Linked DNA regions of Homo sapiens: regions 2, 3, 4, 5 and 6 are each linked to region 1. Evidence: fine-mapped expression QTL. A gene starts in region 1. Each other region holds a variant in brackets. All regions are shown on one strand. Distances are between the middles of the regions. Region 1 holds the start of PLXDC1 (plexin domain containing 1). Region 2 overlaps PLXDC1 (plexin domain containing 1). Region 3 overlaps PLXDC1 (plexin domain containing 1). Region 4 has its middle 34 kb from the start of LINC02079. Region 5 overlaps PLXDC1 (plexin domain containing 1). Region 6 has its middle 6.4 kb from the start of LINC02079.

The links. PIP is the estimated chance that this variant, and not a neighbour inherited with it, causes the effect.
Region 2: its variant is fine-mapped to the expression of PLXDC1 in whole blood (TOPMed, PIP above 0.99).
Region 3: its variant is fine-mapped to the expression of PLXDC1 in whole blood (TOPMed, PIP above 0.99).
Region 4: its variant is fine-mapped to the expression of PLXDC1 in whole blood (TOPMed, PIP above 0.99).
Region 5: its variant is fine-mapped to the expression of PLXDC1 in whole blood (INTERVAL, PIP above 0.99).
Region 6: its variant is fine-mapped to the expression of PLXDC1 in nasal epithelium (TOPMed, PIP 0.97).

Annotation. Positions count from the first base shown.
Region 1 is chr17:39,149,033-39,154,383 of GRCh38, reverse strand. PLXDC1 (plexin domain containing 1) reads left to right here and starts at 2,747. Exons shown (of 14, transcript NM_020405.5): 1 at 2,747-3,022. The coding sequence starts at 2,947. It overlaps TRC-GCA2-3 (tRNA-Cys (anticodon GCA) 2-3), which reads left to right and starts at 579; the gene lies at 579-650. RefSeq lists enhancers at 1-214, 215-721, 1,094-1,243.
Region 2 is chr17:39,106,353-39,111,703 of GRCh38, reverse strand. It overlaps PLXDC1 (plexin domain containing 1), which reads left to right. Exons shown (of 14, transcript NM_020405.5): 3 at 2,313-2,456; 4 at 2,731-2,800; 5 at 3,459-3,581; 6 at 4,179-4,297. It overlaps LOC124903995 (a long non-coding RNA gene), which reads right to left and starts at 449. Exons shown (of 2, transcript XR_007065744.1): 1 at 1-449. RefSeq lists a silencer at 2,606-2,794. The variant G/T (reference allele first, on the strand shown) is at 2,889.
Region 3 is chr17:39,112,690-39,118,040 of GRCh38, reverse strand. The region is part of intron 2 of PLXDC1 (plexin domain containing 1); the gene reads left to right. LOC124903995 (a long non-coding RNA gene) reads right to left here. Exons shown (of 2, transcript XR_007065744.1): 2 at 4,697-5,040. Among named protein-coding and RNA genes, the nearest start is that of PLXDC1, 36 kb to the left of the region's middle. The variant C/T (reference allele first, on the strand shown) is at 2,184.
Region 4 is chr17:39,057,945-39,063,295 of GRCh38, reverse strand. It overlaps the pseudogene RDM1P5. Among named protein-coding and RNA genes, the nearest start is that of LINC02079, 34 kb to the right of the region's middle. The variant G/A (reference allele first, on the strand shown) is at 2,773.
Region 5 is chr17:39,089,873-39,094,535 of GRCh38, reverse strand. The region is part of intron 7 of PLXDC1 (plexin domain containing 1); the gene reads left to right. It also overlaps the pseudogene RDM1P5. Among named protein-coding and RNA genes, the nearest start is that of PLXDC1, 59 kb to the left of the region's middle. RefSeq lists an enhancer at 1,463-1,532. The variant T/C (reference allele first, on the strand shown) is at 2,007.
Region 6 is chr17:39,030,834-39,036,184 of GRCh38, reverse strand. It overlaps the pseudogene LRRC37A11P. Among named protein-coding and RNA genes, the nearest start is that of LINC02079, 6.4 kb to the right of the region's middle. The variant T/C (reference allele first, on the strand shown) is at 2,698.

The DNA.
Region 1 (5,351 bases):
CGCAGGCGAGTGAGGATGGAGTCCTGGCCCCTGCCAGTGGCTCAGCCTGTGTGTGTACCCAGGGTAGAATGCAATGCGAGTGAGGGCGAGGAGCTCCGGGCTGACCCTTGGAACACGGTACGGGTGGCTCAACCTCGCAATGGCAGGGCGGAGGCGAGCGCACCCCCAGGTCAGCCTGGCTCTTTCTTGGCGGGAAGGAGGCTGAGTTTCTAAGGGCTGGGCTGGGGAAGACAGGTCGGGAGAAGCCGCGTGAGCATGTGGGAGGGAGAAAGAAGCTCCGAGACGTGGCAAGGGGTCTTCTGCAGGGCAGGAGAGTGGGACGCCCCCGAAGTGAAATATTTCGAGAGACTTCTCCTTCCACACCCCAGGAATATATTTTCTTATACTGCCAGTGGGGATCTTCAGCTCAGAGCTTCAGGGAACAACCCCTGCTTCCAAGTGAGTAATTCTTCTGGGAGTTGTATTTTTTCCATCTCTTGTAAACGTCTTACCCCACTTCCACTTCCCTTCGGGAACGCCACACAGCGCCTGCGCAGCAATACCACTAAACGACTACGTGCGGTCGGTTTGCCGGCAGAGGGGGTATAGCTCAGTGGTAGAGCATTTGACTGCAGATCAAGAGGTCCCCGGTTCAAATCCGGGTGCCCCCTCTTTGGCCTTTTCGAGATACTGTTTTTGTCCTGGGTGTCGATTTTTCCTAAGCTGTTTGCTTTTACTCCTACTGGCAGACGAGGAGCAGTGAGGGACTGAAAGGAACTGGGGATTCAACAGCAGTGGCTCTCAAAATGTGGTCCTGGGACCAGCAGCATTACCTGGGTACGCTCGGGCCTCATCCCAGACCTAATGAATTAGAAACTTGAGGGTGGAGTCCAGAAATCTGTGTTTTCATATACGCTCCCCATCGCTTGAGTCCAGGAGTTGGAAGCTGCAGTGAGCTATGATCGCAGCACTGCACTCCAGCCTAGGCAACGTGCGAGAACCTGTCTCAAAAAACAAACAAAATACACACACACACACACACACACACACACACACACACACACACACACCCTGCAGGTGATTACGATCTCAAGTTCTAGAGGCTTACGTTAAAATTTACACATTTGCTTCTACTATTTACAAGTTTATGTTTCAGCCTGAGCTCTTCTTGTAAGACAGACCACGAGGTACCCCAGATGGAGGAATGTGCAAAGACGCCGGGGCTGGAGCTGGAATCCGTCCCGAGACTTCTCACCTTGACCTCGAGGAAGGCAGGAGGTCGGAGACAGGGGGTGGGCAGGCTGGGGAAAGAGGAAACCCGCAGGACAAGAGGGTTGTGGCTCGTCACGTGGCCACTTGAGGGCAGCAAGTAGCTGCAGCTGGAGGTAGCTGCCTATCTGATTCTGTTTGAGAGTCCGCCAAGTTGGGATTTAAATTAGACATCAAGAAGAATTTACAGACCGGCCTTGCCTTGTTCCACGGTAAGGGGACATTGGGTTTAGGGCTGGAGGAGGTAGTCTCTGGGACTCTGGGCCCGGCGGAAGGAGGAACCGGCGTTCTAAGAGATTAGAGAGCCTTTAGTTGTTTCCTTTCTTAGGTGTTTTTTTTTCTTTTCTTTTCTTTTTTTTTTTTTTAACCTCAGTGCCACGGAATCCGTCTCTTCCAGCCCACAGTGTACCTTCTCCTGTCCCCGCCCATATCCCTCCTCCTGGAAAATTTCTCCAATGGCGCTCAGCGTTCGCACCCTTCCTCTCCGCGGTTTTCTAGTCCCTAGGCCCCAGCCCACTAGAAGCCAGGATGCCCCCTCACCCCGTCTCCCACTCTCCAGCGCCCCAGCTCCTTGCCGTCACAAGAACGAAGTAGGTCAGGGGAGGGAAGAGGCATCTTCGTGTCCTGACCTGATTCCTTGCCGTCTATTAAATATCCTACATTGCGGGTATTTTTATTCTGTCCTGGAAGAAAAAATAAAAAGATTATCTATCCCCAGAGCCTGTCAGAAGGTGGTGACAGGTGGGGTGAGCCATTTCCTCGTCTGGGGCTGGCTCTGAAGATTGATTGGGTCTGGCCCTGAGTAGGCCTGGAGGCCCCAGAGAGGCAGGAGGCCTGGGTTACCTACTCGTGGGGAGGGGTCCAGACTGTTGCAGAGTAAGGGGTAGCCAGGCCCCCTCCACCCTCACGTCTGCTAGGCTTGGGGGGCAAATCGGTGCTGGAAATGGGGGGTGGAGGGATAAGGTGGAGTCATGGAAGGGGGGTGGGATTCAGGCCCCTCTTGGGGAGAAAAGCTGGGGGTCTTTGCTGCAGGGGGAGATTTCTGGGGGTGGGGGCTGGAGGACAAAGCATCAGAGACGCACAGAATTCCGAAGAACAGCTCAGGAAGTCGCAGAGCTTGGAGGAGCTGGGGGCGGGGAACAGTCAGGGGCCCGTGACCCAGGGATGGGGCGCCTGTCCCTTCCAGGGGTCCAGTCCTCGGGCCTTCTCTCTGCAGCTTTCCCGGCGGAACGGAGGAGGGAAAGGGAGCCAGGAGCTCAGTGAGGAGCGCGGGGCGGCTGATGCTTCTAGGGGTTCTCTCAGCCCGAGGGGCTCCCGCCCTGTCCCCTACTCTGCACCCCTTGCCTTGGGAGCGGCTGCAGAGCTCTAGGGGAGCGCTCCGTTAGGGCTGAGGGCAGGCGCCGGGAGAGCCCCCAACGACGCCGCGCCCCCCGCCCCGCCCCCTGCCCCAGCTCCCCCCCACCCCCACCGACCCAGCGGCCCCCCCAGCTCCCCGCCTGCTCCCGGAGGCCGCAGCCTCCAGCTCCGCTCGCGCTCTCGCCGCTCCTGCCGGCTCGCCCGGCCCCGCGCTCCGCCGTCTCCTCGCCGCCCGCCCCTCCGCCAGCCCCGGGGACCGCGCGGCCGCAGCCTGAGCCAGGGCCCCCTCCCTCGTCAGGACCGGGGCAGCAAGCAGGCCGGGGGCAGGTCCGGGCACCCACCATGCGAGGCGAGCTCTGGCTCCTGGTGCTGGTGCTCAGGGAGGCTGCCCGGGCGCTGAGCCCCCAGCCCGGAGCAGGTAGGACTGGCGGGAGCCGGCCCGGGTGGGCCGGGGGCGGGGAGGGACGGGCAGTCAGGTGTGGGCATGGGCAGGTGTGGACGGCCTGGCGATGTCCGCGAGGGGGGCATTGTCCGCAGGAGGCCAGGAGAGCTGTGGGCTGTGGGCAGGTGGATAGGGACCCCACTTTCCCAAACACATAGGGTGTGTGAGTGACGGTGGAGACACCGATGCCCGGACCTCTCCTTCTCTCCTGGAAGGATACTGGAGGGACCTTAGGAGAGGGGGCTCTATGTGGCCATGGGCTCTGAAAGGGGACAGCGGGAGAGTCATCAGGACCCCTGATCACCCCAGGCAAGGCTGAATTCTGATGAGATGGGAGCCTGGGGAGGCCCCTGCCCCAGCCATGCCTTCTTTTCCTCTTCTCTGCCACACCCCCGACCCCAAAGCTGATCCAGGCTAGGGATAGGTGGGAGCAGCCAGGGGGATGGTGGGGACACAGCGTCTCTGCCTGGGAAGGCAGCAGCCATTCGGTCACCTTCCCTTGCCTATTTGGTGTCAGTAGAGAGGCAGTGGGCCCAGGAAGAAGCAACTTGCTGCTTCTGCACCCCCAGCCTCAAGAGTCCCCCTCCTCACACCTGCTCCCATTTGCCCTGGCAGCCTTTGGCTTTCAGCTACTCTGGCTCTAGATGGGGCACTGGGGTAGGGGGTGGAGGGAGGCGTCCCATTCTGCACACTCCTCTTCCCCCCTACCAGTTCTCCAAACTCATCTCTCCCACCTGGAAGTCCTTTCTGAGATCTACCTGGAATCCCTCATGGTATAATTTTCATAGTCTCTGTTCTCCCCTAAGCACCTAGACTTTCTCTGGGGTTGGGGAGATGGGTAATTTGCAGCCTGGCCCCTCAGCAGAGATGATTAAGAAGATAGATACCTGTGCATCATTGGCATGGGTGCCCCTCAGGTGGGGTGAGGGAGGCGCTGTTGAGGTGAGTGCTGTGGTTGACCTGCTGTGTCTCAGGAGTGTGCTGGCACCAGGCACAGTGTCAGTGGCAATGTTCTTGACTTTAATGGTCCCAGCATGTAGCTGAGACAGACCTGGGTCCCTATTGAGAAGAAGAGTATGTTGGGGGTGGGAGGGGAAGGAGGCTGACAGTGGGAAGTATGGGCAGAGGGCAGTGGAGCTGACGAACCGAGAAGCTGCTGGTGAGAACCACCAATTTTCAGGGAGACCACACAGAGGGTGGCCAGAGACGTGGCTTCTAGTCCCGCCATCTCACTTGCTGTGTGACTTTAGACAAGTTACTTTCTCTCTCTGGACCTATTTTTGCATTTATAAAGTGAGGCTGTTGGCAAAATCTTTGACTCTTGTGCGTGGAATAATGAAGGATCTTTTATAATTGCCTTTCCTTTTCATATTTGTTAGGGTCTTTATGGGTAACTGATACTTTAAAAAAATCAAGGTAAACAGGAGAGAGTTGGATATGTTATGAATAATTTCTGGGCTCCTTTGAATCCTCAACCTGGTGTGATCTTCTGAACTCTGGGTGTAACAGAGTTTATGAGGGGAGGATCTGAACCTTTGGCTGGATTGTGTGAACCACGGAGAGGGCTGGGGAAGGGGGAATTGGGAGGTAACAAGGATGGGCTGGGAGATAGTGGCCAGACCCGGGCCTGGCTGAGGGCGGCCCCTTCAGAGTAGGGTTGGGGTAGTAGACGGTTGAGGAGACCAGGAAGAGTGGGGCAGGCAGAGACTTGAATCACTTCTCTAAGTAGAGGCTATCCTGTCTTCTTGGCTTTGACAGAGATTGAGCCAGGAGAAATGCACTTTTTCTGCAGCAGGAGGGATAGAGGTTAGACTTAAGGAATCTGTAAGAAGCCAGAGGCGGCAGCTGTTGACTCCCAGTCCGGTGCCCTTTTCACAGGCCAGGTGGGATTTCACAGGCAGGAGGACCTATGAGGAGGAAGCGGGTGTCTGGGGAGGCCAGATGTAGGAGAAGGACGTTCTGGGGGAGAGTTGCTAAGGAGGGGCAGCCTGACCTGATTGATGGCGGAGTTGTTGTGACCAGTGGAAGGGCAGCTGGGAGCAGGACCTGAAGAGATGCTAGCATCCTTCCCCAAGGCTCTGGGTTTGTGGGGCTGGTGGGGGGCCTTGGGAAGTAGCTGAGATCTCCCCTCGCTCCTGATGGACAGGCTTGTTTGGTAGAGCCTTGAAACCTCATCTATCATTAGAACAGCAGCAGCAGAGAGATGAGTGGCCCAAAGACAGAGTCAGACAGCAGGGGAGACCAGGATGACAGACAGGAAAATGGCCTTGGGGTGCAGAGCAGGGGCCCAGGGAACTGACAGTCT
Region 2 (5,351 bases), 43 kb after region 1:
GTACACATGAGTCACCCCTTGAGGACTCCCTGAAATAAGGGATGGTGGAGGCCACTTGCAGGGGGTGGAGGTCCTCATTGGGGAGGTAGGGGTGAAAGGCTGATAAGAAGGCAGGGTTTGGCTAGGCGCAGTGGCTCACACCTGTAATCCCAGCACCTTGGGAGGCCCAGGTGGGTGGATCACTTGAGGTCAGGAGTTTGAGACCAGCCTGGCCAACATGGTAAAACCCCGTCTCCACTAAAAATACAAAAATTTGCTGGGCGTGGAGGCGTGTGCCTGTAATCCCAGCTACTTGGGAGGCTAAGGCACGAGAATCGCTTGAACCCGGGAGACGGAGGTTGCAGTGAGCCGAGGCCATGCCATGGCACTCCAGCTTGGGCGACAGAACGAGACTCTGTCTCAACAATAAAAGAAGGCAGAGTTTAAGCCGAGTGTTGAATGACCAGGAATCTGTCAAGGGGAGAAGGCGAGGGTGGCCATTCCAGACAGGAGGACCAGCGTGGGCAGTGGCACGAGTGACCATTGGTGGCTTGAGGCTGTCAGGGGAGTCTGGTCTGGGGGGTGGGCACACAAGGATGCACAAGGTGGTGAGAGGAGAGAGAAGGAGCTAGAGAGAGGCTGGGGCTGGCTGATGGTGGGATCTTGCATGCCAGCCTAAGAGCTTTGGTTTTCGTCTCGAGGACAGTGTCTTCAGGGAGCCCTGGATAGCCTGTGAACAGAGCAAGGTGTTTTTGATTGGTTTGACTGCCGTGCTGAGGATGGGTGGAGGCATGGGCTGTCTGGAGGCAGGAAGGGAGGGCAGTGGCAGAGGGAATAGCCCCCGACACCAACCAACCATGCTTCTTCCGCTCATCGTCCCCCAGCCTGCCCCAACCCCAGGTCTCCAGATTGTGTCGCTTATCGTAAGAGCAGAGTGCCTTCTGGCAGGTGAGGAGTGCAGGAACCCCTTGTCCCTGCTCACGCTGCGCCCAGGGCAAGGGCCGGCTGGGCAGCTGGCAGCCTGGCAGGGAGAATGTCGTTTACTCTGCTGTGTCTGCCGCCACCACCGCTGGGCAGCCTGATTAATGACCCAGGGCTCCTCACAGGTCAGCGGCCCCACCTCTGTGGCGGTGGCTGCCAAGGGAACCTGCCTGCCCTGCCTCCATTCCTCCTGCGGCTGGTGCTCTTGGGTCGGCTCCAGGAAGGGCTTCCACATCGCCCCTCTCTGGCTCTTAAGTCTTTCTGCCAACCATTTCCCTGGCCTCCTTTGAACCCTGGCCCAAGTGCTCCTCTGCAGGAGAGCCTTTGCAGAATGAACCCCCAGCCCATAGCATTCTAACTTCTTTATTTCATCTCCATCAGGCACACAGCAAAGGCTCAAAGATATGCCTCGAAGGAATCCTTGCTGCTTCTCTCCCCTTCCCACCACCCTGGTGATGCTGTGTGGACTCTGGGTTCTGTATTAGCTCTGCTTGAGGGTCTGTGTCTGCTCCTCTGTTTATATAAGTCCCATTCCAGACTGGAAACTCCCCAGGACCAAGAGGCAGCCTCCTCCTTTAGACTGGTGCCTTCTAAGATCCAGATTTTTCTCCTTCTTTTGAGACAGAGTCTCGCTCTGTCGCCCAGGCTGGAGTGCAGTGGCGCGATCTCGGCTCCCGAGTTCAAGTGATTCTTGTGCCTCAGCCTCCCAAGTAGCTGGGATTACAGGCGTGTGCCACCAGGCCACACTAATTTTTGTATATTTAGTAAAGACGAGGTTTCGCTGTTTTGTCCAGGCTGGTCTCGAACTCCTGACCTCCCGTGATCCGCCCGCCTCGGCCTCCCAAAGTGCTGGGATTACAGGCGCGAGCCACCGCGTCCAGCCCAGATTTTCCTTTTCCATTAAATAGGGTACTCTTCCAGGGCAGGGACTATGACTCTCCCTCGGCCTGGGAGCTCCCTGAAAACAAGGGCCCGGTTTGAGGCCATCCTGTCTGTTCCTCCCTTATGCCCCATGCCAAGCTCAGCCTTGGTCCTGGTCTGAAGGGATGCAGGGGCTGCCGGCCTCCTGGCTTGTCTGGGAACAGGAGGGCTGAGCATGAGGGCAGCAGGCGTGGATTTGGCTGTGGCCAGGCCTGTTGGGGCACCACTAGGGGCCAGCTAGTGAGCTGTCTGGGGCCAAGGGGGAGTCCAGGGGGTCCTAGGCCTAAATCAGCCCTTGGGGCCACAGGTCCAGCACCCTGGGAGGGTGGTGACTTCCTGTACCCAGAAATCTGAGTGGGGAAGGGCGGAGAGTCAGTCCTGGCATGCTGACTACTCACACCTCCTGTGGGCTTTATCTTGGGTGCCGGCAGGAGGACAACCACAGCTATTATGTGTCCCGTCTCTATGGCCCCAGCGAGCCCCACAGCCGGGAACTGTGGGTAGATGTGGCCGAGGCCAACCGGAGCCAAGTGAAGATCCACACAATACTCTCCAACACCCACCGGCAGGCTTCGGTGAGTGCCCCAGTCGCCAGCCATGCTTCCCTGTGCTGGGAGGCCGGGGGCCAAACCACCCTGCCTGGTCAGTGGGCATGGCTGTGGCCCGAGGTCTGTGACCTGGGAGGTACCTTCCAGGGGTTCCCATGGGACTTTGCCAGAGTTGGGGTGCCCAGCAGTGGCCCTGGGCATGCCTGCTCCCCACTCTGTCCAAACAAGCATGAGGCAGTGTGGGTGCCCAGGCCCCTGGCCTGCAGCTTGGCCCGTGCTGACTTTCTCCCATCCCCTGCAGAGAGTGGTCTTGTCCTTTGATTTCCCTTTCTACGGGCATCCTCTGCGGCAGATCACCATAGCAACTGGAGGTAAGGCCACGTCGTGGGGCCCCGGGGAGAGTCTGGAGACCTCAGCCCGAACTCAGGGGCCCTCCCAGGGGTGGCTCACTGGAGACAG[G/T]GTTATATGAAATGGGAGGAAGGCACATTTGGCTCTAATAGGAGTCTGATTCTCAGGAGGGGGGTCAGTGGACGTCAGAGCATCTCCCTTGCATTAGCTGACCTGCTCATGTGCCTGCACGTGTGTGTCTCCTCGGGCCAGCACGAGTCAGTGTGGACAGCCCTGTGTCCCGGAGTTGCTGAATAAGAGGGAGAGGGAGACTCCACTGAGAGCTTGGGCTCCTGGGGCCAGGCTCCCTGTTGATAGGAGGCACCTGTCTTTAATCCCTGCACTTCAGTTCCACATCCCACTTCCCCAGGGATGGGGAAAGCTGTGAGTCCTCTCCTCTTCCTGCCCCCTCGCCCTATAGTCTGTGCCCTGCTGAAGGGACAGGGAGGACCTTCTCCTATCTGGGGTCCTTTGGCTCCATACACACCAGACCCAGAGCCCGCCAGATGGGGATGGGCGACAGAGGTCTCAGGCTCACTTCCAGCTCTGCCTGCGCTGCCCTTCTTGCCCTTGGGGAAAAGGCCCCCAAAGCGGCCCCTCTGGGCCATTTCTGGTGACTCCTCTGCACCTCTCCCACCCTAGGCTTCATCTTCATGGGGGACGTGATCCATCGGATGCTCACAGCTACTCAGTATGTGGCGCCCCTGATGGCCAACTTCAACCCTGGCTACTCCGACAACTCCACAGTTGTTTACTTTGACAATGGTGAGACTGGATCTCAGAATTTAAGTCACCCAGCTCCAGGGATCCCTTGTCCAGTCCTTTAGAGGAGCACAGGGCCTAGAGAGGGCAAGGGTCCCACAGTCCCACGGCAAAGCAGCCACCTACCTTTCTCTGCTCAGTTTCCTGACCTGTCAGATAGGGGCAAAAATGCCTGCTACCCAGAAGAATCTGATGAGATAACAAAACGACAGTGCTTGGCTCTTAGTCGAGGTAAAATAAATGTTAGGGGCCTTTATTGTTACTTACATTCACCAGGATGTCCCTTGAGCCCCGTCTGAATCCAGGAGAACAGACATTCCTCCTTCTTTTATCTCAAGGAGTCAGAATAGACAAGAAGGAAAGGGAAAGAGATGATCAAGTACAGTATCTGGGGCTGAAGCAGGATCTTCTGGCTCCTCTGCTGCTTGGAAGCCGCGCTGCTTTAGTGAGCTGCCCAGCTCCTGCCTCCTTACCTTTGCAAACTTCCCCATCATCCCGAAGGGACCCAACCTGTGGCCGCTGCCCTCCGACTGGCATTTCTGTAGGGCCCTGCTCCTTGCATGATCTCCCGTCCAGCCGGGTCTCTGTTCTTCTCCCCAGGGACAGTCTTTGTGGTTCAGTGGGACCACGTTTATCTCCAAGGCTGGGAAGACAAGGGCAGTTTCACCTTCCAGGCAGCTCTGCACCATGACGGCCGCATTGTCTTTGCCTATAAAGAGGTGAGTGGGCCCAGCTGCAGAGACAGCTGGGTCTTGGAGCCTTTCTTCATTCAGCAAATATTTAGAGAATTTGCAATGTGCCAGGCATGGGGCTTGCTGCTGGTAATACAGCAGTTAACAAGATGTTTGCGGGTCCTACCCTTTTGGAGCAGTAAGTCTGGTTGCGGAGGTGGACAATAATTACAGGGACAAATGTAGAATCACCACTGTGACAAGCGCTCCCAAGTAGAGGTGCCTGGTGCTAGCTGAGCCTTTCACAGACCTCTTAACCTTGGCAGAGGCCAGGGGAGGCTTTGCTGAGGAAAAGAGTTGAAATCTGAAGGATAAATACGAGTTCAGGAAGCAAAGAGGAGAGTGAAGTATGTTCTAGGAGAGACAACAGCACACAGCACATGCAAAAGTCCTGAGGCAGGACAGAGCACGGCTGGCACAAAGCACTGAAAGAAGGCAGCATGGGCCAGGTGCGGTGGCTCACACCTGCAAACCCAGCACTTTGGGAGGCTGAGGTGGGTGGATCATCAGAGCTCAGGAGTTCGAGACCAGCCTGGCCAACATGATGAAACCCCATCTCTACTAAAAATACAAAAAATTTAGCCGGACGTGGTGGCAGGCACCTGTAATCTCAGCTACTCAGGAGGCTGAGGCAGGAGAATCGCTTGAACCCAGGAGTTGGAGGTTGCAGTGAGCTGAGATCGTGCCACTGCACTCCAGCCTGGGCAACAGAGTGAGAATCTGTCTCAAAAAAAAAAAAAAAGAAAGAAAAAGAAAAAAGAAAAAAGAAGGCAGCATGATGAGCCAGGGTGGTGGCTCATAACCCCAGCGCTTTGGGAGACTGAGGCGGGAAGATTGCTTTAACCCAGAAGTTCAAGACCAGTCTGGAGAACATAGTGAGACACACACCTCTATTAAAAAAAAAATAGAAGAAGGCAGCATGGTTGGAAGGGAGAGAGTGAGGGGCAGGACAGGGCAAGGGAACCACAGATTTGCCCTTGAGAAAAGTCACTCTGGCTTCAGAGTGGAGAACAGGTTGTTGGGGGCTTAGAGGGAATACTGG
Region 3 (5,351 bases), 36 kb after region 1:
TGGCTCTAGAACGCCGCGGGTAGGTGGCAATAGCTTTCATTGCATCACTGATGCTCAGCCCTGAGGAACCTGGGTAAACTCTGGCCTCATAAAGAACTGGATGGAGACAATCAATACAGGCAATGGAGCAGCCCTGCCCCAGCTGAAGTCTCTTCTTTTTCATTCCACAAGGCCTGAGTGGTTGGCAGAACTGTTGCACCTCCCTGGGCATGTGGACAGATTGGAGGATGCTGGCCAATCAAACCCTTTACTCAGCTCTGCTTCCAGAAAGTAAAAGGCATGTCTCTTGGTTTTGTTTTGTGACAATGTCTTGCTCTGTTGCCCAGGCTGGAATGCAGTGGCATGATCATGGCTTACTGCAGCTTTGATCCCTTGGGATCAGGCAATCCTCCTGCCCCAGCCTCACAAGTAGCTGGGACTACAGGTGCATGCCACCATGCCCAGCTAATTTTTGCATTTTTTTTTTTGTAGACTTGGGGGGAGGGTCTCACTATGTTGCCCAAGCTGGTCTTGAACTCCTGGATTCAAGCGATGTTTCTGCCTCAGCCTCCCAAAGTGCTTCTTGTCTTTTGAGAGTACTGGTTCATTGGTTGGATTCAGATGGCAAGTGGACATTGCGGTTGACTTTTCAACATATATTTTACCTTACAGCCTTGTACAATAGGAATGGGATCTTGGGTTCCATGATAATCCTACCCCCCAGCTGGTGTTTGGTTTAGGTGGAAGCTGTTTAGCATCTAGGGCTTCCTAGTCCAGAGGTGGCAGGGGACCCAGGTTGACCCTGCCATCTTGAAGCACACGTGTTCATTCAGTGGTCGGGGAGAGGTGTGCTGTGCCTGTCTTGCTTCCATGAGCCAGGGCTAGTTGCCACTGTCTGCCATCCCGTCACTACAAGATGCCTAGCCTTACAATGAAGCCCACACTGAAAGTGGCAGAGAAGAAAGACTGAAAGAGCTTGGTCTTGGTCATTGAGCCACATTCCCCGTCAACCCTGATGTCAGGCCTTTGCTCACCCAGCTTCCATTCCCCATTCCTAGCGGAGCCATGATCCCCAGTTCCTGGGGGAAGTAGACTGGTTTAACCAATCTGGCACGCCCTGGCCCTTGTAATAATCGGGGGCCACATCAGACTGAAGGGAAGATCTTGTGTTCCACTCTTGGTGCGAGGTTTCTCCTTTTGAACCCGACAAGGAAGCATGCTGCCTCAGTGGCTATAGGCAGCCCTCTTTGGACCAGGAGGCAGTCACACTTAGGACAATGTCCTGATGACACGAGGATCATCCATGTTCCATGCCTGCTGCCAGGCTCTCAGACGCTTGGTCTAACACATGTCCTCCGTGTTGAAGCTGGGTTTCTCTTCCTTGCCCCCGAAGGTATCTGCCTTGTTGGCTTTACTTCCTCAGAGAAGAAATTGAGGAATCCAGAGACACCTTCCTGTGTCCAGGATGTCCCAGGTTTGGGAATGCTGTCTGTGGGCTTGGATTCCCAGAGGAGGCAGCTGGTTCCTCCACAAGTGGCTTTTGTGTCACCTGCCACTGGAGATGGGGGAGGATGCTGTCCTTGTCAGAGCCACACTGCACATTCTCAGCACAGTCTTGACACCATTGGCTGCAGAATCCTTGTGATTCAGCTCATTTGGCAAGCAGATGCTGAACACCCACCAGATGCCAGGTGCCAACCCCTGCGCTAGGGAGGTGCTGGGGGCGGAGATGAATGTGCCACCATCCCTGAGCTCCAGCCTCCAGACAGTGGTCCTTCTGATTGAGAGTTTAACCAATGACTGGTAGGTAGCCTAAGTCACCTTCCCGGAGAGCTGTTGCTTAAAGATCTCAGAGACAGTGGATAGAGGAAAGGTCACTGTCTTTGAGTGGAACTGACCTGGTTTCATACAGTTACATTATTTCTTTTTATTTTTTGTTTTTTTGAGACGGAGTCTCACTGTGTCACCCAGGCTGGAGTGCAGTGGCGCAATCTCGGCTCACAGCAACCTCCACTCCTGGATTCAAGCAATTGAATATACTGCCTCAGCCTCCCCAGTAGCTGGGATTACAGGCATGCGCCACCACACCCAGCTAATTTTTGTATTTTTAGTAGAGATGGGTTTCACCATGTTGGCCAGGCTGGTCTTGAACTCCGGACATCAGGTGATCCGCCCTGTCTCAGCCTCCCAAAGTGCTGGGATTA[C/T]AGGCATGAGCCACCATGCCTGGCCTAGTTACATGATTTCTAGTCTCAGTTTCCCCACTGAGAAAATGGGACTAATATTAGTGCTCACCTCCTAGGGTTGCCCTGCAGTAACAAATATGAAATGCCCAGCACTCTCCCATCACCACTCAGCAAATGCCAGCTTCCCTTCTCCTTCCTCCCACGCTCCCAAATGCTCCCCTGCAGGCTTTGTGCTTGGCTCTGCCCAGGAGTGATCCCCCTGCAAGTCGCCCCCTCCCTCCAGGGTGCAATTTGGCCTCACCCATCACTGTGTGGCCACCCTCAGCCAGAGCTGAGTAGATATGGCTCCTGGCTTCACTGTCCTGGAGTAATAAAAGTCAGGTGTGCCAGGAGGGCAGTCTGTTGGGCCTGTTTGGGACCTGCAGCAGATTCTGCATGGCATTGCCCTTGAGCCAGTCCTCCCCCTGGCAGGCCAGCTGTACTTGGCACTTCTGAGGCCTGAAGCAGAGCTTGGCCTCACCCTCGCTGGCCTGAGTAGGGCATCGTTAGGCTTCGAGGCTCTTGCCTTCCCTGGGATCTGCTGACTCATTGGAGAGAATCAGCTTAGGAGTTAGAGGCAGCAGCTCGTTTCATTTCTGACTTTCCTTGAGTCAGAATAGATGGAAGTTTTCTGTCAGTTAAGAGGTGCCATTGCAGGGGTCATCGGGAACTCCAAGAATGAGTCCAGGGATCATCCAGGTGTCAGAGCTGAGGCACGTGACACAGGGCCTGGTTTCTCTGCAGAACAGCACTAGTTTGGATCAGACTGCTTGTCTTTGCTGTGAAGCAGAGAACTCCGAGCAACGGGCCAGGAAGATGCATTCCCAGGAAGCTCACGCTTTGCAGTCTTAGCTGAGGCGGCAAGAGACACGTCAGCATCTGTTTGGGCTTCACAACTGCAGAGCGTGGCTTCTGTCCCGGGCACTCATTTCAGACGCCCGGAGGTTTGGGGAAAGCTCTCGCTGTGCGGGGCCCAGGAAGCAGGCTGATTGAAACCAGACCTTTCTCCGAGCCTCAAAGCAACCGTCTTAAACACTGGCCCGCTCAGGTTCCCAGGTGGAAGCTGTATTCAGTTGACTCTGAGACTTACCTGAGAGCACCTGTTTAGCATCTGCAGCTGTCCTGCTTTGTTTGGTAAAATGATCCTATCCTGGACTTCAGAATATGTAGTGGTACCTGTAAAACAGGCAGCTATAATTTGTGGTCATTCTTTGCTCAACAAATCCTCCATTGAACACATACTCTGTGCTTAAACACGATAAATAAAGGCTGACCTTACTCTTGGGGTCTTACGATCTTACAGGAAAGGCAGACATGAAGATGTGTATAAAATCCAAGTAAATTGTCACAAGTGTGCAAAACACCAGGAGAAAGAAGCACAGGGTGTGATGGGAATGCAACAGGGAATCAGAGAGGCTTTCTTGAGGAAGTGACTCCTGAGCTGAGGCTGGATAGGTGAGGAAGGGTCAGCTCCTGAACAGGGAAGGGAAGAAATTTTGAGGCACAGGCGGCACCAAGGTCCTGAGGCAGACAACTGTGTGGTGATTCCCAGAACAAGAGAGCAGGGGAGAGGAGGAGGTGCTGAGTTGGGGCCAGACCACCACACGTGGGGAAGGATTTGTGTTTCCGTTTAACAGAGAGCTAAACCCAGGGACTTAAGAAGCAGCCCTCTAGCATGTCATCAGGGACCAAGTCTCCATCTAGTTGTCCACTTCACCATCCTTAGGGTGTGGCTCTTGTCCTTATACTCACAAGATGGCTGTTGGAACTCCAGCCATCATGTCTGCATTCCAGGCAGGAAGAAGAAGGGCAAAGATAAGAGGGACAAGCAGTCAAATTTGATCTCTTTCAGAAGGTTCCACTAGAACCTTCAGCTGATGTCATGAGCCAGCCTGTGTCACATGGTAATCCTTAAGACATCCAGGGAATGAGGTTTATTAGATGGCTACATCATTGCTGGTTGCTACAGAATCAATCTTTTTTTTTTTTTGAGACAGAGTCTCACTGTGTCACTCAGGCTGAGTGCAGTGGCTCAATCACAGCTCCCTGCAGCCTCGACCTCCTGGGCTTAAGGGATCCTCCTGCCTCAGCCTCCTGAGTTGCTGGGACTACAGGCATGCACCACCATACCCAGTGAATTGTTTTATTTTATTGTATTTTTTGTAGAGACAGGGTCTCACTATGTTGCCCAGGCTGGTCTTGAACTCCTGGCCTCAAGTGATCCTCCAGCCTCGTCCTCTCAAAGTGCTAGGATTACAGGCATGAACCACTGTGCTCAATCCAAAATCAATTTTCTATTAGTAAAGAAGAGAAGGGAATGGCGGAAGGGGCGTAACCTTTGTTCTGAGTGCAACTGGGGAGCCACAGAATGGCCTAAGCAAGGGGATGATGTGGAACAGGGAAAACAATTTCAGGTTGTCCCAACTGGGCCACAGTAACACACACCTGTGGCACAGATATTCATTTCCTAGGGCTGCCAGAACAAATTACCACAATTTTGGTAGCTGAAAACAACAGAAATTTATTCACTTGCAGTTCTGGAGGCCAGAAGTCTGAAATTAAGGTGTCAGCAGGGCCACGCTCCCTCTCAAGGCCCTGGGAAAGGAGCCTTCCTTGTCTTGTCCTAGCTTCTGGATCTCCTGGAAATCCTTGGTGTCCTTGGTTTGTAAACAGCGTCACTCTAATCTCTGCCTTCATTGTGACAGGGATCCTCCCTGTGTCTCCTCTGCGACTCTGTATCCACATCTCCCTCTTCGTTTACATAAAGACACCGGTCATTGGATTTAGGGCCCACCCTAATCCGGTCTGCCTTCATCTTGACTTGTTTCATCTGCAAAGACTATTTCCAAATAAAGTCACATTCATAGGTACCAGAGGTTCACACTTGAACATATCGTTTTGGGTAACACAGTTGAAACTCACTACAGCATGCAAAAGGATGGAAAGGCTATCTGGTGCTGGCTGGGCTAAGGTGGGCCACTCGTTTTCCCCTCACCCACAGATCATAAGATAGCCCAGGATTTAGGGAGGCAGGTTTATTTCCCTAATTTTAACACATTGCAAAGCACCAGTCCCCCTACCCCCACCTCCAGCAAACACTTCCTAAGCATGGAGGAAGTGAGGGACCTTGAGCCATAGGCACAGAGGTGA
Region 4 (5,351 bases), 91 kb after region 1:
GGATGCTTTGCATTTGAACAACTTTAGCGGCCTCATTGTGTTTTTATTACTTTGTGGTTTTGCTCACAAAACATGGTTTAGCGAGCCAAAACAAAGAGAGGAAAAATGTGAACACCTCACAGCCAAAATCAGTGATGCCACATTTCAGGCTCCAAACAAGCCAATTTATAAATAAACATGCTGTGTTCGCCAAATCAAGAGGAATGTGTTAAGAGAAGACAACGTGAACTGATGGAGAAGGTGCTGAGCTGGACGGGGAGTGGGAAGGTGGGAGCTTGGCCTCAGCCCTGCCCCTGAGTAGCTGGGTGATGTGGACAAGTCACTGGACTTCTCTGGGCTGGCTTCCACCCCTGTGAAATAGGAGGTACTAGACTAACTGGTCTAAAGTGGGACCTGAGCAATCAGCTGCCTGGTCCTTTTTCAGGTCACACAGCAACTTAGACCAAAGCATGCCTTTCTCTTTCATTATCCCGATAGGGTGACCAAATTGTTCTATCCAGGACTCTCCTGGTTCTAACACACAAAGTCCTGCATCCCAGGAATCTCCTCAATCCTGGGCACATTGGAATGTTATAGAACCAAACCAGGTCTTCTCACCTGGCGCAATAACACCAGATGTCCACACTGAGACTTTGCAGCAATAGAGAAAGGAAGGCATTTGTTTGCAGGACTCCAAGCAAGGAGAATTGGGTGGCTTATGCTTAAGATATGAACTCTTGATGGCTTGCAGGTAAGGTTTTTTTGTTGTTTTTTTTTTTTTTGAGAGAGTCTCACTCACTCTGTTGCCCAGGCTGGAGTGCAGTGGTGCGATCTCAGCTCACTGCAACCTCTGCCTCCTGGGTTCAAGTGATTCTCCTGCCTCAGCTTCCTGAGTAGCTGGGACTACAGGCATGCACCATCACGTGCAGCTAATTTTTGTATTTTTAGTAGAGACGGGGTTTCACTATGTTGACCAGGCTGGTCTCAAACTCCTGGCCTCAAGTGATCTGCCCACCTCGGCCTCCCGAAGTGCTAGGATTATAGGCATGAGCCGCTGTGCCCAGCCACAGGTAAGGATTTTAAAAGGCAGGGGTAAATTTCAGGAAAGCAGATGTTACAGGTAAAATCATAAATCAATATATGGAAGCTATACGTTGGTTTGACCTAAAAAGGCAGGACGTCTCAAAGCAGGACCCACAAGTCATAAGGTGGGTTCAAAGATTTTCTGATTTGCGATTGGTTCAGGAGGCGAAGCTTTGTCTAGACATGTGGGATCAGCAGAAAAGAATGTTAGCTCTGGCTCATGGGCAATGGCCTCCTCCAGGTCCCTCAGGAAGAAATTTAGAACAACGAACTATAGTCAGAGTCAGTCCTCAGCACCCGTTTATCTGAGGTCTACATGCCAGCGGATCCCTTTTGGAGGGGTCTGGGCTTCTGAAAAACAACTCAGGGACATACGTTAAGATGTTATCTTTAGTTTGTAGAGAGGGGAACCAAACATCTCCTGGCTCTAACTTCCTCAGCTATTGTTTTAGACTACTATTACCTTCCTGCTTACCAAGTTGCTGATTTACTTCTCAGGGCTAGCTAGGATTTCCCTGAAGGAACTCAAGATTTTCCTTTATCCCCATGTGTGGGTGTCCCCAGCTCCCTCGCCATGTTTGGTCCCCTCTACCCTTGGCACAGCCCTCCCACCCCATTGGCTGAAGAAATAATGATTTCAAGCACCTGGAAAGCACTTTAGAATATAGAACCTTGCTAGTTAAAGTCTGGTCCAGGGCCAGGCACAGTGGCTCATGCCTGTAATCCCACCACTTTGGGAAGCTGAGGTGGGAGGACTATTTGAGCCCAGGAGTTTGAGACCAGCCTGGGAAACACAGGGAGACATTTTCTCTCAAAACAAAACAAAAACAAAAACAAAAACAAAACAAAAAAAATTAGCTGGGCACAGTGGTACATGCCCTGTGGTCCGAACTACTCGGGAGGCTTGGGCCCAGGAGTTCCAAGCTTCATTGAGCCATGATCACGCTACTGCCCTCTAGCCTGGGGGACAGAGCAAGACCCTGCTTTAAAAAAATGTAAATCTGTATAATAAAGTGTGGTCCAGGCCAGGTACAGTGGCTCATACCTGTAATCCTGCTCTCTGGGAGGCCAAGATGGGAGGATGGCTTGAGGCCAGGAGTTCAAAACCAGCATGAGCAACACAGCGAGACCTTGTCTCTACAAAAATAAATAAATAAATAAATAAAATAATAAAGTGTGGTCCAGCCAGGCAGCATTAGCATTCCCTGGGGTTAGCTGGAAATGCAGCACTCAGGCCCCCCAACCCCAGAACTACTGAGTCCGAATCTGCATTTGAGCAGCTCCTTAGGTGACTCCTGTGAAGGGCATGAAAGTTTGAGATGCACCATTTAGGAAGCAATTCTACCTACATGATCGCAGCCTGTTGGAGAAGCACTGTTTTTCCTTTCCCAGATGAGGAAACTGAGGCTCAGGGAGGTGGCTTACTTATTTATTCACTTGATCCACATTCATTAAACGCCTGTGTGCCAGGCACCATTAAGTGACTTGCACAAGGTCACACAGCTAGTAAGTAGAGAAAAACCCCAAGTGCAGATTTTTGGATTCCCATCTGAGGTTGTTCTCTGTGTACCTCAGGGTGTTGCCAGAACCACATGGCCACAGTTTAATATAGAAGCAGATTATGGATTATGACAGACAGACTGCTCCAGGCCTGTAGAGATCCTCGAAGAGATGCCTAGTGATGACTTCAGATCCTCGCTCTTGGCTCAC[G/A]AAACTGTGAGCTTACCATCTATTTATTTGCACAGTCCCAGGAGCTTGAGAATGTCCTAGTTGTTGCTGCCTCCTTCTCATCCCGCTGCTCACACTAGCGACCCTCCCACATGAAGAATTAGAAGTACTCCTCACAAGCCTTACAGAGCACCAGGCGATGCCTCCATCTAATTTATCTTCTTGGATGGAGGACAATGGATTACTTCCTTCGCCAAGATGGGGCCAGAGGTGCAGGGAGGAAGGAAGAGGGGTAGAATCTTTACTTCAACTGTGAAATCCAGAGAGAAATTTTGTGGGGAATGATTTTTCTGATGTTCATAAAACATTTTTACATTTGGTCCCTAGAGATAGCTAAATTATGCCTACAGTTTTCCACAAAGCTAAAAGCACTGAAAAAAAAATCACCTGAATATGGGCCAATAAAATTTCATCATACCTTCCCAGAGTCTTGGGTTAGAACCTTCCCTTCCAGCTTGTCTTTCCCCTTTTTCAGTCTCTCCCCCTCAAAGTTTGTGTGGTTTTGTTTCTTTGTGTTTTGAGACAGGGTCTTGCTCTGTTGCCCAGACTGGAGTGCCGTAGCATGATCTCGGCTCACTGCAGCCTTTGCCTCCTGGGTTCAAGCGATTCTCCTGCCTCAGCCTCCTGAGTAGCTGGGACCACAGGTGTGTGCCACCATGCACGGCTAATTTGTGTGTATTTGTGTGTGTGTGTGTGTGTGTGTTTGAGATGGAGTTTCGCTCTTGTTGCTCAGGCTGGAGTGCAGTGGCGTGACCTCGGCTCACTGCAACCTCCACCTCCCGGGTTCAAGCGATTCTCCTGCCTCACCATCCCGAGTAGCGGGGATTATAGACATGCACCACCACGCCCAGCTAATTTTGTATTTTTAGTAGAGATGGGGTTTCTCCACGTTGGTCAGGCTGGTCTCGAACTCCCGACCTCAGGTGATCCGCCCTACTTGGCCTTCCAAAGTGCTGGGATTACAGGCATGAGCCACTGCACCCAGTCAATTTTTGTATTTGTAGTAGAGACAGGGTTTCTCCAGGTTGGCCAGGCTGGTCTTGAACTCCTGGCCTCAAGTGATACGACCACCTCAGCCTCCCAAAGTGCTGGGATTACAGGCATGAGCCATTGTGCCCGGCCTTAGATCCCATTTTTAATTAAGAGATGAAGATGCTGCTCTCAGCAAACCTGTGCACTGACTCTGCTCTCCTAAGGAACATTAAGCAATTCCAAGAGCCCCTCCTCAAGGCCAAAAGGGCAGCCTCCTGTAGGGCCTACCTTCCCGTTCTCAGAGCCTCCCTTTTCTCTCTCTTTTTTTTTCTTTCTTTTTTTTTTAGAGACAGGGTCTCAGTCTGTTGTCCAGGATTCAGTTCAGCGATGCAATCATGGCTCACTGCAGCCTTGAATTCCTGGGCTAAAGTGATCCTCCCACCTCCGCCTTCCAAGTAGCTGGGACTACAGGTGGGAACCATCATGCCTGGCTAATTATTTTATTTTTTGTAGAGATGGGGTCTTGTTTTTCTGCCTAGGCTGATCTTGAACTCCTGGGCTCAAGCAATCCTCCCATCTCAGCCTCCCAAAGTGTTGGGATTATAGGTGTGAGCCACCACGCCCGGATGGAGCATCCCCTCTCTACAGCTGCTGACACCCCTCTCTGTTCCCTGGGGCTCTTCTCCCCCAGGCCCATTACAGACTGAGCAGAATCCTCCCAGCTGTGCTCACTCTTCCCTCTGCCTCTGTAGACAAGCACTTAGCCCTCTTTAGCCGTGAAGAAGGAGCCACAACTAACAAAATTAGGCAGAGGTAAACATTACTTAAAACCAAAGGTCCTGGTCTACTGACTTTTGGACTCTGGGATGGTACTGCTGGTGGTGCTGCCGGCAGCTCACATTTACTGGGTGTTTCCTATGTTCCAAGCACATTTTAGGAGATTTACTTGTATCGTCATCTATGGGGTGGGTGCTGTTGCTACCTCTACCCTACACAGGAGGCCACTGAGGCACAGCGCAATAGGGAACTGTATGTTTTTGTATTTTTAGTACAGATAGAGTTTTGCCATATTGCCAAGGCTGCTCTCGAACTCCTGGTCTCAAGTGACCCGTCCGACTCAGTCTCCCAAACTGCTGGGATTACAGGCATGAGCCACCGTGCCCAGCCTGATCTTTAAATTTTTTCTGTAGAGATGGGGTCTCACTATGTTGCCCAAGCTGAGATTTCTTAAAAAGGGACAGCATAAAATGACATGGGGTTTAGCATCAGTAGGTTTGAGTTCAACCTTAAGCTTCCATAATTCTTGTCAGGAACCTTAAGCAAGTCAATTAACCACCCTGAGTTTGAGTTTCTTAATCTAAAAAAACCAGAGAACTGGAAGATTAGTGTGGCAATGCATCTGAAAATATTCTGTAAACCAGAGTGCTGGACAAATGCTAATCTATTATTGAATTCAGCACTTCATTTCAGCGGAGCTAGGAATTCCATATTTGGAGCCACCTTGACAGGAGATGTCTGAAAAAGCTGCTTCCGGTGGCATGCCTTTTGGGCTCCGTGGACAGCCATTGCTGAATAAAACTTAATGACGC
Region 5 (4,663 bases), 60 kb after region 1:
ATTGCTCAGGGAGTTGTAGACTCAGAGTGGGGCCGGGTCGGGGGGCAGTCACTTTGCCTGAGAGTGGGGGAAGTCTTCAAGGAGGGGACGTCATTTGAGCTGAGTCTTGAAGTATGAGGCAGTTGAAGCAAGAAAGGTTGACATTGGACTCTAGAACCTATGGCCTCAGGCACCCTGGAAGTCAGGACATGGGAGACTTGGAGTTTCATGTTTATTTTTGATCCCATTGCGTTTTGGTGCTGAAGGGGAAGGAGAGATGGCCCCTGGGAGTAATGAGTGGGGATGGTGTGTGAAAGTCTGCTTCAAACTTTCCATCCTCATCTAGATATTCCCAGGCCCCCAGGCTTACTCAGAGCCCAGGCCACCTTCTCATGGCCATTGGCATCACTCAGGGGCACCTGCAGCACAGGTGGCCTTGGTGCCACCTCTGGGCATGTGAATTACAAAAAGGTGCCCATCCTCCAATCTCTGTCAGATCCCACTCGGGCTTGGCAAAGGGTCTTTCTTGTGTCAAAGGGTTGCATATGTGTGTGCATATGAGTATGTGCTCATGTGCAGGTGTGTGTGTGTCTTGGAGGGCTGGGGTGTGCACATGCGTGTGCGGGGCTCTGTGAACCCCTCGCCACCTCAGCTTTCCATGGAGGGTTCCCTCCTCTTAGAGCCACAGTGACTCTGTAGACACCCGGCAGTTACTGCCTGATATTTACGAGGCTTGCCACGGGGCCTCCTCTCTCAGACTTAGGGTTCTTTAGGAGACAAACACACAGTCATTCCATCTTTTGGATTTTGGCTTAATTTTATATATATATATATATATTTTAAGACGGAGTCTTTCTCTGTCGCCCAGGCCGGAGTGCAATAGTGCAATTTCGGCTCACTGCAGCCTCTGCCTCCCGGGTTCCAGCGATTCCCCTACCTCAGCCACCCGGGTAGCTGGGATTACAGGCGCGTGCCACCATGCCTGGCTAATTTTTGTATTTTTATAGAGATGAGGTTTCACCATGTTGGCCAGGCTGGTCTCAAACTCCTGACTTCAGGTGACCCGCCCACTTTGACCTCCCAAAGTGCTGGGATTACAGGCATGAGCCACTGTGCCCGTAATTTTTAAATAAATGTTTTTATTTTTAAATAAACAACTGGGCTCGGTAAATTGTAAAGAGATGTGGCCTGACGCAGTGGCTCGCGCCTGTAACCCCAGCACTTTGGGAATTGGAGGCGGGAGGATTGCTTGAGGCCAGGAGTTTGGGACCAGCCTGGGCAACATAGGGAGACCCTGTCTCTACCAAAGAATAAAAAAAAATTACCAGGGCATGAGCCTTTGGTGGGGGAGGTGGAGCTGGGGGCAGGGACTGAAGTGGGAGAATCACTTGAGCCCACGAAGCCAAGGCTGCAGTGAGCCGTGATTGCACCACGGCACTCCAGCCTGGCAACAGAGTGAGACCCTGTCTCGAACAAAACAAAACAAAACAAAAAAGAAAGAAATGTAAATGTTTCCCTTTGACTCTTTTAGAAACACAAATCAGGAAGCTCTCAGCAGGGGTGTGCTGGAGATCATGTATGCAGCTGGGTGAGAGGCAACTGAACATGTCTCTTCCTAACTCCATGTTCAGTAACTTTTTTGAAAGGGTAGCTGGAAGTCAGCTACCGTGGAAGTATTTACACCACAGAAATTGGCAACAACGGCAATTCAGGACTCCTCTGCCCCTACCTGCACCCCAGCCCCCAGGCAGTTGTTAAATATTTATCTGCACTCACAACTTTGGTGACTTTCTGGAGCCACAGTGGCTTCCAGCCCTGAGGTTTTTTAAAAGTCTAGCCTCTGATTTTAAAACAAAGACTGTGTGGCTTTGGGCAAATAACGTCCCCTCTCCGATCTCACTTTTCTCCTTTGTAAAGTGGGGAGAGCAGCGATGTCTGTCTGTGCACCTCAGGAAGTTGTAAGGGGAAATGAGATGGTGCAGCTCCAGGGAACCTGCAAGGCTGCGAGCTAACAGAGTGCTCTGCAC[T/C]CAGCACAGCCCCTGCACAGAGCAGGTGTCTGCACCGACATGCTGAAGGAGTCAACAAATGTGCTGCATGGTGGCGCTGTGCTCTTGTAGTTTTCTCGTTTAAGTAGATGTTTTCCGTCTACTTAATGGCTAGGCTTGGTAAATTGTAAAGAGATGTGGCCTGTGTGGTGGCTCATGTCTAGAACCTCAGCGCTTTGGGAGGCTGAGGCAGGCAGATTGCTTGAGCCCGGGAGTTGGAGACCAGCCTGGGTAGTACAGGGAGACCCATCTCTACTAAAAATACAAAAATTAGCCAGGCATGATGGGGTGTGCCTGTAATACCAGCTACTTGGGAGGCTGAGGCAGGATTACTGAGCCTGGGAGGTCAAGGCTGCAGTGAACTGTGATTGCGCCATTACACTCCAGCCTGGGTGACAGAGCGAGACCCTGTCTCTAAATAAATAAATAAATGAAAAAGTAAAGTGCTATACAAAGTTGTATCTGTCTATGGGTTAATCTGTCTGAACCTCAGTTTCCCCACTTATGAATGAATGGCAAGACAACTTGATTTTTTTTTTTTTTTTTTTTTTTTGAGATAGAGTCTCACTCTGTTGCCCAGGCTGGAGTGCAGTGGTGCAGTCTCAGCTCACTGCAGCCTCCACCTCCCGGGTTCAAGCAATTCTCCCGCCTTAGCCTCCCAAGTAGCTGGGATTACAGGTGCTCACCACCACGCCTGGCTAATTTTTTAAATTTTTAGTAGAGACGGGGTTTCACCATGTTGGCCAGACTGGTTGCAAACTCCTGACCTCAAGTGATCCACCTACCTCGGCCTCCCAAAATGCTGAGATTACAGGTGTACAGCCAACTTGACTTCTTAACTCCCTTGCTCTCTCAACCTGATATGTCTGAGTCTCTGCAGCTGTAGCTCATCTCCTCTCTCATAAAGCCCACACCTGCGCAGTGCTCGCCTTGGGGACCACCTGGACTCCTCATCCCACCCACTCTGTCCAGCTGCTTTCCTGAGGAGGAGCAAGTTCCCTGATCTGCCTGGGATGGAAGGAAGGGAGGGAGACGTGGGAGGAGGCCTGGATCTCATTCTAAACCATCCGGCTCCAGTGCAGGAGTCGGGCGAAGGAAGGAGCTGCAGGGCTGGAGCTGTCATCCTCCTGGTAGGAAAGGAAGACCAAGGCTAAAGTCCTCTCCACTGCCTCTCCCCATGGGAGTCAGTGGGTGTGTGTTGCGGGGAGATGGATTCCAAGATAAGTACTCTCTGAGCAGCCCTCAGAGGGGGCGTGGGAAATTCACCTCAGTCTCCAGGGTCCCCAGTCCATTCACCACCTGAGCACTGCCGTCCCCCACTGCTCCCATGACCTCATTCTCCAGTGGTGGCAAAAGCAAGAAACAGTAATCAGGAAGAAACAAGGGGAAGCTAGGGTGGGGGCAGTGGCATCCACAGCAGGAGAAGCAGGCAGCCTGGACTGTGGGGGCAGCAGAAGAGAGGAGAGGCCTGCAGGATGACGGGTGGGAACAGGGCGTCTGGAGTGCCAGCACAGTACCGCGGTCAGGCCGCCTCTGTGGGCCTCCTCTCTCTCCACAGCAGCGGGGAACTGGGGGACCCATCAGACTTGCTGACAAGAAATATGCCGTCCTAGAGAGAGAGAGACAGAGGGAGAAAGACAGAGTAAGGACAGGAAAGAGAAAGCAATGCGTGCCATCCTTCCTCCTCATGTTCAAGTTTATAAACATTGCTTAAGGTGGACTTTGAGGGGTTAGAAGAGGCTGAAAATGCCCTAGAGTCTCAGCCATGAGAAGAACAGCAAAAAAGCAGTCGGGGCAGAGAGAAAAGGGGCTCACATGCTTCGAGGGCTCCTGGGGTCCTTGTGCGTTGAGTGTCTCCCTTAATTCTCAGGACAACACCATTTGCATGGCATCACCAGCCCCATGTGTGGATGCGGCTCACTGAGTCCCTTGTCCAAGGTCACACAGGCGGTAAGGGCAGAGCCTGTCTGCCCAGCTGCGGCAACCCTAAGCCTCCTCTCCTTGTGTGGTCACCCTCCGGGGGCCGAGCTTCTTTTCCTCCATGCTCTCATCAGTGCCCCCATCTGCTTTCCCCTTTCCACTCGGCCTGGAGCAGCATCTGGCCTGTGGGTAGCAGGTGCACCCTCCTAGTGGCATGGGAGTGGGGGGCACCAGCATTTCAGACAGGCCTCAGGGATGTAGATGCTGCTCAGCTCCAGGGAATCTTTATTGACACCAATGCCAGAGTAGTCTTCTTTTCACTGCATGGAATGACATTCCAAGGTCTTGAATGTTTCAGGGGCTGAAGTGTCCTGCAGCAGGGCATTGTGTTGGGAAGAGAGCATGCTTTGGTGCCAGACCCACGGGGGCGCAGTCCTGGGTTAAGTAGGAGGGACTAATTCCAACGTTAAGGATAAATAAATAATGAGATACAGGCCAGGCATGGTGGCTCACACCTGTAATCCCAGCATTTTGGGGGTCTCAGGCAGGCATATCACCTGAGGTCAGGAGTTTGGGACCAGCCTGGCCAATATGGTGAAACCCCCTCTCTACCAAAAATACAAAATATTAGCCAGGTGTGGTGGTGGGCACCTGTAATCCCAGCTACTCGGGAGGCTGAGGCAGGAGAATTGCTTGAACCTGGGAGGCAGAGGTTGCAG
Region 6 (5,351 bases), 120 kb after region 1:
CGCAGAATCCCATCTCTCCTCTAGAGCTAGAAAACAGGATTGTCTGGTTCTAGCATTTTTTTTTCTTACCAATAAGATATCACACTAAGGGTGAGGGAAACTACTTTAAAGTGGTCATAATTCCTCTTCTTAGATGACTATGATTGTCATGTGTTTTATTTTTAATTTAGAGCTCGTGTATAACTTGTCTATGTAAGTTGAACTAATAATGTGACACACAAACTGTTGTAAAAAATGCCAGTTACTGCCCGGGGGTGGCGGCTAACGTCTATAATCCCAGCACTTTGGGAGGCCGAGGTGGGCGGATCACCTCAGGTCAGGAGTTCAAGACCAGCCCGGCCAACAAGGCGAAACCCCATCTCTAAAAATACAAAAAAATTAGCGGGGCATGGTGGTGCGCACCTGTAGTCCCAGCTACCCGGGAGGCTGAGGCATGAGAATCGCTTGAACCCGGGCAGTGGCAGTTGCAGTGAGCCAAGATGGCGCCATTGCACTCCAGCCTGGGCGGCAGAGCGAGACTCTGTCTCAATTAAAAAAAAAAAAAAAAAAAAAAGCCAGTTACTTTGAATGTGAGCATTTTTTCCAAAATCATTTATGTGTCGAATTCCTTCTATAAATCAATGTGAAAATGATTTTAAAAATTCAACGAGATCATGAACAAAGGACAGAAAACTCAGAGAAGAAACACAAATGTTCAATAAACACATAAAAACATTTCATTAAATTCATAAGTAATCAGAAAAATTCAAATTTAGATGGGATACCTTTTATTCATCCATAACATCAACAAAAAGTTGGAGAATAGCCAGTGGTGAAAAGGTGTGGGGAAATGAATGCTGTCATACTCTGCTGACGATAGTGTAAGTAGGCACAACATTTTTGACGGCAATTAAAATTTCATATCTACATAGGCTTCACTCCAACAATTCCATTTCTAGATATCTATTCTACAGAAATACTTGCCCATGTTCACAAAGAAGCATGGATTTCATTGCAGCAATGCATGTAACAAGAAAACTAGACATAATCTAAACATCCATCAATGGGGGAACTATTAAATAAACTATGATACATCCATACTATGGAATATTATGCAGGAGTTTAAATGAATGGGGTAACCCTCTAAGTACTGGGAAGGAAGGAAATCTAAGACACATCATGAAGTGAAAGAATCAAGTTGCAAGATGTTACCATTTATGTAAAGAAAAAAGATTTTTAAAACCACACAACAAATCTATTTTGCTTTATGTAAATATGTATGTAGGCAAATGGGAAAAAGTCTGGAAGGTTATATACTAAACACAGAGTGTTACCTCAGGGATGAGGGAGTAGGACACAAGGAAGATTTTTGTTATAGCTGTTATTTCATTTTTATACATTAAGAATATAATCATGGGCTGGGAGTGGTGGTTCATGCCTGTAATCCCAGCACTTTGGGAGACCAAGGTGGGAGGATCACTTGAGCCCAGGAGTTTGAGACCAGCCTAAGCAACATAGGGAGACCCTGTCTCTACAAAAAATAAAAAATTAGGTGGGAGTGGTGGCATGCACCTGTGGTTCCAGCTACTTGGGAGGCTGAGATGGGAGGATCACTTGAGCCTGGGAGGTGGAGGCTGCAGTGAGTAGTGATTGCACCACTGCATTCCAGCCTGGGGAACAGAGTAAGATCCTGTCTCCGAAAAAAAAAAAAAGAAAAAAGAAAAAGAAAAAAAAATACCCATGTATTATTTGCATAATAAAAATAAATTTAAATTGACTCTTATTTTAAAGAGAGCCTACCAAATTTAATTTTAAAATTACCACACGATTGCAATCAACAGAGGTTCATTTGGGGTATGGAAGGGAAACATGTTTTCTCAGAGGTACCGACCTCAAAATTCTGTACCAAGAAGGATCTTACAATGCAGTTAGTTTTTTGTCATATTTGGAGAGAATATACTCACAGTTTCTCAGTCCAACTGTATGCTTTCCATACATCTTCACCAATGTAAGAAATATAGTTTCCTTGGAAATTTCTGTGAAGAAACACAGTTCATATCCTTGAATAGGTAGGAAAAGAATGAACAGGATAAGTAAAAGAATCATGGCAACCTTGTGGGGGATATTCAGAAACAGAGAATAACACCTGCTTTCTCATTTCCAGAGCTATCAGCTTCCCAGTTTGCACAATTAATCAAGAAATAATGTGGGACCACTGGCACAAATGAGGCATCTCCCGGAAGCTTAACTTCCTATCCATCCCATCTCTTAGACAGATAATGCCGGTTAATTACTTTGAATGTAAGGACTTTATCCAAAATCACTTATGTGTCTAAACTAACTCCTTCTACAAATCAAAAATGGTAAATACCTCAACAGAAAAATGGGCAAAAGCTTATTATTATCAACAAATAAGAAGAAAGAAACCCTATGCCGGATAACACCAAAGCTTTGGCCCAGTGCCCTCAGTTGAAACATCCTAGGCTTTTTTCTTTTCACTCCTATCACAACCAATCTGATTTAGCCCCTTCACACTTTACTCCTAGATTTTGCTAGACCTTTCTATTTTGTCTCCCTGAATTAAGCTTTCCCCTCTAGGGCATTCTACATATGGATTCTAAAATAATCCTTTGCATGTCTACACTTGAACATTATGCAAAAAATAAAATAATCCTCCCTGTTTTAATCATTTAATCTCTCTTGGTTGGAAACTTTCAA[T/C]GGCTTCCCATATCTCACTGTGTAACTTTTAAACTCCCATACCTGATAATCAAGGTTTTACATAATCATTTCTTCATCGCTCCCTCGCCTGATTCTTTGCAGCCAGATTGGTCTACTAAATTCTCATCATATCTGTAGCCATGCCTTTGCCTAGATTGTACTCCCATTTTTTCCCCTATTTAACAAATTATAGCTACTTTTTAACCCCCACGTAAAGTTTTAGCTTATCCATGTAGCTTTCTCTGACCTCCAAATCTCAAGATCACAGATTTTGGTGAATTCTAGCACCGATGGTCTGCATTATCTTTTAGTACTTAATTATATATACCTCCCTTTTTATGCCTATTCTCTTTCTTCCCTCCTACCATTTTCGTGTTCTAGGGACAGTAGCATACTTGGCTCTGGGTTGGACACAAAATGAGTGCTACATATAGAAAGCCAGGGACAAAGATGAGTTCTGGACATAACTCAAAGACTGAGTAATCATGTTCACAGCCAACCCTCCTGCATATGCTAGGCACTGATGAAGTGTTTCATATATTCACTCACCTAAATTTCACAACAATCCTATGAAATGGTAACTAGCATAATCCCCAGTTTAAAGATGAGGAAATTAAGTCACAGAGCAGAATAACTTGCTCAGGGTCATCAAGCTAATAAATGACAGCCCTGGGTTCAAACCCAGGCAGCCTGGCTCTAGAATCAACTCTTAACCATTTAGAGCATCATCACTGAGATGGGGAGAGGGACAGGCTGCTGTGAAGAGGGTGAAGCGAAAATGGGAGGAGAGCAGCGGTTAAGCAATGATGCGATGGGGCTAAATGAAAATGGACAAGTAAACAAGTAAGAGCAATCACAAGTAAAAGACTGGAGAAGGGGCCTAATAGTAAAGGAGAACGACGAGAAAGAAGAGATTACCGGCAGAGGTGAAAGCAGAAAGTTAGTTGTCAGTATAGCTTGGGGAGATAAAGAAGGCCCAGGAAGGCCTCCAGGAAAAGGCTGCCATGTGAGGCAGGACACAGAAGACAATGGAGGAAAGGTGATTCTTACAAGATGGTGAAGGTGCCATTGTAGGTGTTGGGCTCTGGCACAGGCACTCAGCGGAGCCTCTGCTTTGGGCTGAGATCGATACACGACAGCGTCTCATCTCCGCAGGTACAGAGATCACATATGTTGGTGCTTGTGGAGGCCTTCTGTTCCTCTGGTGCAGTTAAAGCCTTATTTTGGGCGTAATTTTCAGACTGCACCAGTGAATCCTGAGTAGGTTCTAGTTCAGTAGGTGGACCTGTGACTTCAGTCAGGTTTCGATGCTGAGTCTGAACCTGGTCTGGACGTGGAGCTATAGTCTTCTCCAGGGCTGTAGAATATCCAATCTCTGTAGTGGGTTCTGGAGTGATGGCAAGCCCCAGGTCTGGAGACTGAGTTGAGGTCTCCTCCGTGGTTGGAGACGGTTTAACATCTATAGTAGGTTCTATAGTTATGGTAAGCTCCAGGTCCAGAGGTTGAACTGTGACTTGAGTCAGGTTTGAATGCTGAGCCTGACCCTTGTCTGGCGGTGGAAGTGTCACCTCAAGGTGCTCTGGAGGAGGAGCTGTAGTCATCAGGGCTGTAGACGGTTCAACCTTTGTAATGGATTCTGGAGTGATGGTAAGCCCCAGATCCAAAGGTTGAACTGTGACTCTGGGTGATGTTGGATGCTGAGCTTGATCCTGGCCTCGTGTTGGCATGGACGTCTCATAATACACAGGAGGTTGAGCTACAACCTCCTTACGTAGCTCTGGAGGCTGAGTTGGGGTCTTCTGCATGGTTGGAAAAGGTTCAACCTCCATAGTGGATTCTGGAGTTAAGGTAAGTTCCAGATCCAAAGGTTGAACTGTGACTTGAGTCAGGTTCGAATGGAGAGTCTGAACCTGGTCTGGATGTGGAAGTGTCACTTTAGGGTGCTTGGGAGGAATCTTCTTCAGGGGTGTAGAATGTTCAACCTCTGTAGTGGGTTCTGGAGTGATGGTAAGTCCCAGGTCCAAAGGTTGAGCTGTAACGCTGGGTGACATTGGATGCTGAGCTTGATCCTGACCTGGTGTTGGAACTGTTACCCCTTGATATGCTGGAGGTTGGGGTACAACTTCCTTAGGAGGCTAAGTTGGGGTCTCCTGAATGGTTGGAGAAAGTTCAACCTCTGTCATGGATTCTGGAGTGATGGTAAGCCCCAGGCCCAAAGGCTGAACTGTGACACTGGACAGTGTTGAATGCTGAGCTTGATCCTGACCTGGTGTTGGAATTGTCACCTCATAATGAGCTGGAGGTTGAGCTGCAACCTCTGTAGGTGTCTCTGGAAGCTGAGTTGAGTTCTTCATGGTTGGAGGAAAAAAACATGGTTGCGGAGTTGTGGTAAGTTCCAGGTGCAAAGGTTGAACTATGACCTGTTAGGTTTGTGTGCTGAGCCTGAACCTGGTCAGGAGGTGGAAGCATCACCTCAGGGTGTTTTGGAGGAGCTGTAGTCTTCCTTGGGGTTGTAGAATACTCAGCCTCCATAGTGGATTTTGGAGTGACGGTAAGTCCCAGGTCTAAAGGTTGAAATGTGACACTGGGTGATACTGGAATCTGGGCTTGGTCCTGGCCTGCTATTGGAATTGTCATCTCATGCACTGGAGGTT